Homo sapiens: one gene and its partner. The protein of the gene in region 2 interacts with the protein of the main gene of each other region in a pairwise test. Each region holds a gene or a part of one and is shown on either strand. Other genes may lie near its edges. The genes, in order: BACH2 and MAFK.

The links.
Region 1: the proteins of MAFK (region 2) and BACH2 interact in binary tests that used the Homo sapiens proteins (3 or more experiments, as listed by UniProt).

What each region holds. Positions count from the first base shown.
Region 1 is NC_000006.12:90,290,078-90,293,894, forward strand, and holds part of BACH2 (transcription regulator protein BACH2), read right to left. Parts: exon of another isoform or gene 2,406-3,817; intron 1,869-2,405; exon of another isoform or gene 1,173-1,868; intron 1-1,172. UniProt on the Homo sapiens protein: Transcriptional regulator that acts as a repressor or activator. Binds to Maf recognition elements (MARE). Plays an important role in coordinating transcription activation and repression by MAFK.
Region 2 is NC_000007.14:1,540,530-1,543,688, reverse strand, and holds the end of MAFK (transcription factor MafK), read right to left. Parts: 3' UTR 646-3,159; downstream 1-645. UniProt on the Homo sapiens protein: Since they lack a putative transactivation domain, the small Mafs behave as transcriptional repressors when they dimerize among themselves.

The DNA of each region.
Region 1 (3,817 bases), on a different chromosome or scaffold from region 2:
GCCAAAATGGCCCCAGAGGTTCCAGCATGGCTTAGGCAATACTCCAAAGGGCCAAAGATAGTAGTGAATTAATAGGATTAGGAAGCTGGAGAAAAAGTGAATCTCAAGTTTCAGACTGTCCCTGATGGAAGGTCACTCCACAATTCCTCAGGGAGGGCTTCCCCAACCTCCCGACCAGGTTAAATCTGCCCATTAGACACTCTGGTGTATGAAATACTTTCCTTCACGAGCAGTGGGTTATCTGTTACTAACTGATCAGTGCCATTCTTCCTACCAGATGACGTGCTTCATGAGACCAGGGGCCAGGACTGGGTTTGCTCCCCATTAGCACTGTGGTCACTTAACACTATGCCTGCCATGTAAGAGATACTCAGTATATATTTGTTTAATGAATGAATGAGGCATCTGCCTCTAAGCAACAGTATTTCTGGACACTTGGCCCATTTTGCACTATCCACGAGCTTCTGTTGCTTAGAAGAATACAGGATAGGAAAAAAAGAAAAATTGCCAAAAATCTATGGATACTGAAATACTAAGGAAAGATGCTGAGCATGTACATTCACTTTGTTTCCTACTTGTGGAATGGAAATCATCACATTGGGATCTCCCAACTTTAAAATCCGAAGTGAAGGTCTAAGCTGTCTTTGGGTTAGACTCCTGGAAAGTCTTGAGGAAATTCCTGAAGTATCTGCAGAAAGTGACAGGGGAGGGAGAATAGAAGATGGCCCAAGACTAGAGTGATGGAAGACTTGGAAACTCGAAAAGCTTTCTTCTAACTAACTGGGACTTTGTCTACATGCCAGCTACAGGCTCAGGCACACATGAAGAGAATAATGAGATGAATGGGAGGACTGGAAAGTGGAGGATTTAAATGCTTAGGAAAGGAGCCAATGAAAGCTGACACAAGGACAGGAGGGACCTAGCAACCAAGCGCCGGCTCTCATCACATCAGCAGCAGCATGTCCTACAGCCTTCAGGAAAAGAACAAAAAGGTCAGGGAGGAAAATGACACATCTCAGAACCAAAGGGCAATTCATTATGAGGCTAAGGAACAAAGGAGAAGTCAACCAGGGAATATGCTGAAGAAACGGTGATTATGAAGTCACTGGGGAAGACTGAGAGGCATTTTGGCTGTAGTTCCAATGACTAGAATGAAGGATGATGTGAAATGCTTTTGGATTGGGAAGATTTATTATTTTGGAAAAAAAATAGCTCAAGGAAAAACAAATGGCAAAATTCCTGCCTGAATTTTGAAGTAGTGTCACTAGCAGGATGAGGTTCAATTTATACATTCTTTAGAAATGAAATGGCCCTTGGAAAAGACATAGTGGTAAGATTCGCAGGACATTTCCAGCCTTACGGAAGCTGAGTAGCATGCTGATAGTAAAATTAAGTTTCAGTTTTAGATAGACTGACATTTGAAATTAACAAAAAAAAAAGTAAAGGGAAAAAATTAAAAGACCCTGAACTGACAAAAAAAAAGAAAAAAAAAAGCAACTACTGTCTTTTTTTTTTAAATTAAATGTCATCACAAACAAAAAAAAAAAGGTGAAAGTTGAGTTGTATTTTGGGCAATCTTACTGAGTTTACAAAATGTTTAGTTCATAGCAGGTTTCAGTTTGGACATGAACAGTTTGTAAATATTTACATAAAATTTAAAGATAGGAGGACAGCAGAGGTCATATATTGCTATTAACAATACAGAAGCGATTTTCCGTCATTCCCAAGGCCTTGGTGCTGCGTTCCCATATGTGGCCCCAGCTCTGCCAAAAGCTTGTCTTCTTTTCCAAAGAAATTCCAATTTTTGCAACCAGCATTGACTTCTGAACTGTGAGTACCTCTGACAGGGTCATATGTCGCTGAAACTTCTTCAACATCCAGACAGGGAAAGGAGAAAAACAGGGAGGCAGATTTACAGCGTCTGCTATCTGAATTGCAGATTTTGACAAATATGTTACATTTTATATTGTTCTCTGTTCTATGTGAGGGCAGGGACCATGTTCTCTGTATGTCACAGTCCTACACCATGCCCAGTCATTGATTCAGGACTGGACTGTGTAATGGAATGGGGAAATAACCTTCAGACATTCAAGAAAACATGCACTATATTCAGATTAAGTTCATTCCAACATGAGATTAGTTCTTCCAACTCTGCAGAATGGGCAGGCACGACACCTACTTCAAAGGGTTGCTTTGAGGAATCAATGAAGTACATTCAGGCAAGGTAGTCAGCACTGGGTCTGGCACATGGTGCGGATTCAGTAAATCAAAACTATTATTTTGGTGAGTGTTCTCAAATGTCAAACTCCCATGGAGGTCCTCAGGCATTACCCAGCCAAGTTACCCCATCTGGTCAGTAACAACTAAATAGAGGGCAGGTGGTTCAAAAGTAATGGATTATTCACCTGCAAGGAATCACACTGTACTCATGGTATTAAATTATTCGGCCTTTCATGTCGAATTCTCTGTTAAAAAGGAAGCTGATCAATCCCTGAGTGGGACTCAATGTTGATTTGAAGTTTTGTTTTTTTGGCATCTTTCTATTTTCCAGGTAGTTGTAACCATTCATTGGGTGCATACTCACAAATCATCCACTATATGCCAGGCCTTTAGAAAACAGAGACACACAAAGATATTAAACAAAAAAAGATGTTTCAGTCTGTTCAGTAGTGGGAGACAAGCAGCCCCCAGGCCGACACTAGCTCTTACATATGCTTTCATCCAAAAATTTTTTAAAGATTTGAGCCAATATTTAAAAATCAGGAAATTCCACATAAATATCCAATATTCAGCTTCCCCTGGAAAAATCAAATGATGTGGCAACACAAAGCCAGTAGTCCTACCAACTGTTCCCTAGCAAGAGTCTACAATGAGTTGAGTAGGGGCGGCCTGCCACTCCACACTATGCCCTGCTCCTCACCAGAACCAGGTAAGTACATAATTTGCAGGGCTCAGTGAAAAATGAAAACGAGGGGCCCTTTGTTCAAAAATTATTAAGAATTTCCGAAGAAAACAGCAGAACCTTATACCAAATATGAGGTCCTTCTGAGCAGGGAAGAGGAAGGGGGCCTATGTAACTGCACAGGTCTTATGCCCATGAAGCTAGTACTGGCTCTCACCCCCTGGACACACAGGAAGATATTTATTTATCTAAGTATTCTCTCATTCATTAACAATCAAGCCTGCATTTACAATAAGCTAGATGTCACACCCCTGAAATCTGAGGTTCAAAAACTAGAGTAGAGGGGCCAGGCACAGCAGAGATAGAGAGCCACTAGGGTCTCTTTCCTTTTTGTTAAGACTGGATCCACACCAGAGACACTGAAAGTTAATCCAAGTAAAATTAAACTGCTCTCAACAATACAGATTGGCTTGAGCCCTTTTGTTGGCATCACAGGAGCCTCGATTAGGAATTCTGAGAAACAGCTCACAAGCGCTAATGAATAACTAAGTCCTGTCGGCTGTGCAGACAGTGGGCCCAGAAGTGAAGGGCTGGCCTAGGAGAGATCTGAACATGAACCTGACCATCTGGCCCTCTGTGACTCACTTTGATCACAAAATGAATTGCAACAAATTGAAGAGCACATGGCTAGAGTTAATTGTCTCATCTGTAATCTGAATCTACTTTTAAGCAGTTATTATTACCCTCTATCAGGTGGAAACATTTCCTACCATCACTGCAAAGTGCATTTTCCTGATGAACTATAATGGATCATTAAATTCCATATCTGAATAACAATACTGTGCACTTATTCAGTGCCTTTCATCCAGGGATTTCAAGGCAGTTTGCAAATAATTAAGCCCCTTACACAGCAGC
Region 2 (3,159 bases):
CCCCTGCACTCCAGCTTGGGTGACAAAGCAAGATACTGTCTCAAAAAACTCGAGTTGGGATTTCACCCTGCGTGGTCCAGCACTGAACAGCGTTCACACCTCGGTCAGCTCAGCCCCAAAAACGGGGAAGGCCGGGCGGGGTGGGGACGGCATGCGGGCAGGCCCGTGGCTTTTCGGAGGAGTCCACGGGCTTCCGGCCACTGTGCAGGGGCGCTTTGCTCTCTGCTCCCAGACAGACCCTGTCTTGCTCACAGCTTCCTGCAGGCTCCTCTGAGAGTCCAGCAAAGCTGGGCGAGATGTCTCCCAGGGAAGGGGAACACTGACAGCCGTGCTGCTCTCTGCTCCTTCCACTGGAAGGGAGAGGCTGCATGGACAGGGGGCTCCGGGTGGGGCAGATGGGGACACTCAGGACTGCGGCCTGACCCTCAGAGACTGAGCCCAGGACGTGGTCACCTGACCAGCACCTCCCCCGTGGCTGTCCCAGCCTCACGGTCACGGCCCAGCAGTCCGGGAAAGCCACTTACACGTAGTGCCCGGATCCTGACCCCGGTGAGGGACAGGCAGGGTCCCCTGGGATTGGGGGGGGGGTGTGGTTCTTGGCCCAAGAAAGCCCCAGCTGAAAGCACCAGCTACGCAACGAAAGGGTCTGAAACCAGAAAATTCTTTATTGCAAAGGTACAAAAGCAGTCACAGCAGCAGGACGCACGGCAATAAATTAGGTGGTGGCCGCAGGGACGGGGCAGGGCGGCGGCGGCCAGACACGGGCCCACATGTGATCTGTTTTCAATAATTTATATCATGATAAAAAGCAGCACAAAAAATAAATAATGAAATGGAACTGCCAAGTAGCACAGAAGCCAGGGTGAGGCGGTGTGGCGGCGTGGCGGCATAGGGGGCCGGGGTCCCCACGCCCTGGAAACGCAAAGACCTGGATCTCTTTGGGAAGCCGGAGGCACGGAGACAGAAAACAAACCCACGTGACAAAGAGTCCCTCGTCTTTTTCTTAAATAAAAAAATCCATATATTAAATCATGACAATGAAATTTCAACAATCTGAAAAGAAAAGCAGAACACACCGTGCTTCCCCGGCCCAGCTCTGGGCGGTGACAGCGGCTCCGTCCACCCTGGGGACCAGGGAGTCCCTTCTCCAGCAAAGCACTGCAGGCCAAGGGCAGGTAGAAGCCCACGGCCCACAAGACGTGGACACCAAGAACCCCAAGACGGGACAGAACCGGCCACCCGCTGCGGCCTGTCCTGCGGGGCCCAGCTGCCTGGTACAGTCCGTGGGGAGATGAAGGGGGACGGCGGGCAGCCCGGGCCTCCGCTTTGCTCCCAACTCCCACCTGTGCCCGTGCCCCCGGCTCTGCTCTGATAGATTTACAGTATCAAACTGGAAAAGAAAGATTGTTACGAAAAATCTGTAGATAAACTGTGAATATAATTTTATATCTCTATATATTTTCTGTTTCTCTCTTTAAATATCCCCCTGGTCCTTATGACATCCAATATGGATTACCTACCACGGCCACGGGGGCAACGGCTGTTTGGGAACACGCAGGCCTTTGCTCTGTAGGGACCCAGTGGTCCTGGCGGGCCTGCAGCTTCCCACTCAACTTCTAACAGTAGACACAGAACCAAGTCGCAGCCCCGGGGCTGTCTGTCCTCTGCCCTCCCAGCGTGGCTGGCACCCGCCTGGGCTCTGTAGCTGGTGGGGGCTGTTACTGGGTGGGCAGGGGCAGCCGAGAAGGAGCCAGGGCCCCAGGCACCACCTTGCAGGTCTTATGTGGCGGCCCCCGGCCGGCGGCTCACATTCCGCCAGCTCCCCCAGGCAGGGGCTCCGCAACCCCCGCGGCTCTCGCTGCAGAGACCCCAGTCACAGGAGGGACCCTCAAGGCGGCTCTCCAGGAAAAGGAAGCCCAAGGTGGAGTGCCAAGCCCACTGGTGCCTCAGTGCTCTTGGAAGGAGGAGCAGGCAAAGGCTCCGGGTGAGGACTGAGTGCTGAGGCCAGCCACACCTGCAGCCCGTGGCTGTGCTCCTGGGGGTGTGCGCGCAGGAGCCACGTCCACGAAGCTCTCCTGGACTGGTGCCTGCTGCCTCCCCACCCGCCGCGCCCTCTGGAGTGCCAGGCTCACTCCTGAGCTCTTCTACAAGCCAGCTGCATCCTGGTCCTGCCCCTCAAGGCTTTCCACCTGCTCTCGCACACGGCTCCCGCCTCCTCCCACCACTCCACGCAACGTCCTCCTCCTTCCACCTCCACATCCATGTCCACCAACATCCCCCAGGCTGCACCCCCTCTCCCTAGACTGCAGCAGCCCTTCCCCTCGCCAGGCCCCCAAAAGACCTCCTCGTTCCCCCTGCACTGACCACAGTTGGTGAGAAGTAGCTCCAGGACACACAGCCTGAGTCCTGCTCACCGTCAAATGATGGGGCGCTCCTGCCTGTGTCCGCTGAGATCCGGGACGGCCTGTGGGGTCGGTGTCTGGGGGGCCGGATCCCGTGGGCAGGGGCTTCTGCGCTGTGCTGCACGACCTCCTCGGGTCACCAGAGCACAGGGGAGACCTCACGACGTGTGAGCCACTCTCTCTGCCATGTGTGCCCACAGGCCCTCCCCCAGTGAACACCAGCAAGCTGCACCCCCTCAGCCCTGCTGCTTTGATGGCAGGCGTGCGTGCACACACACAGACACCACCCCACGCAGGCGACCTCCCACACCGTGCCCACTCACGCAGGCCCCTGCTAAGGCAGACGCGGATCACGGGCACTGCAACGGGACAGCTGGAAGGACGGAGCTGCCGACACACCATCCATGCTCCTCCCCGGGGACTGCGGAGTCGGTCAGGGCAGTGAGGGGCTCCCGCACCGGCTGGGAGGCCGTGGCAGGACAGGTGTCGAAGGCTGCTTACAGCAGGAGTGGAAAACAAGCCCCATGCTAGACCTGACCACAGGGGCCTGACTCCTGGGGCCGTGTCTTCCGGCAGCCCCCACAGAGGACGCGGAACTTCCCGAGGGCCTTTCCATTATATGTCCCGACTCCCACGGGTGCAAGATACCAATTCCCACACACAGACACATCCTGCGGGGAGCAGGTGGCGGGCGTGAGTGTGTCTGTGGACCGGCGTGCAGCTCTGGGCCCACGGGAGCCCACTCTTCACCCTGCAA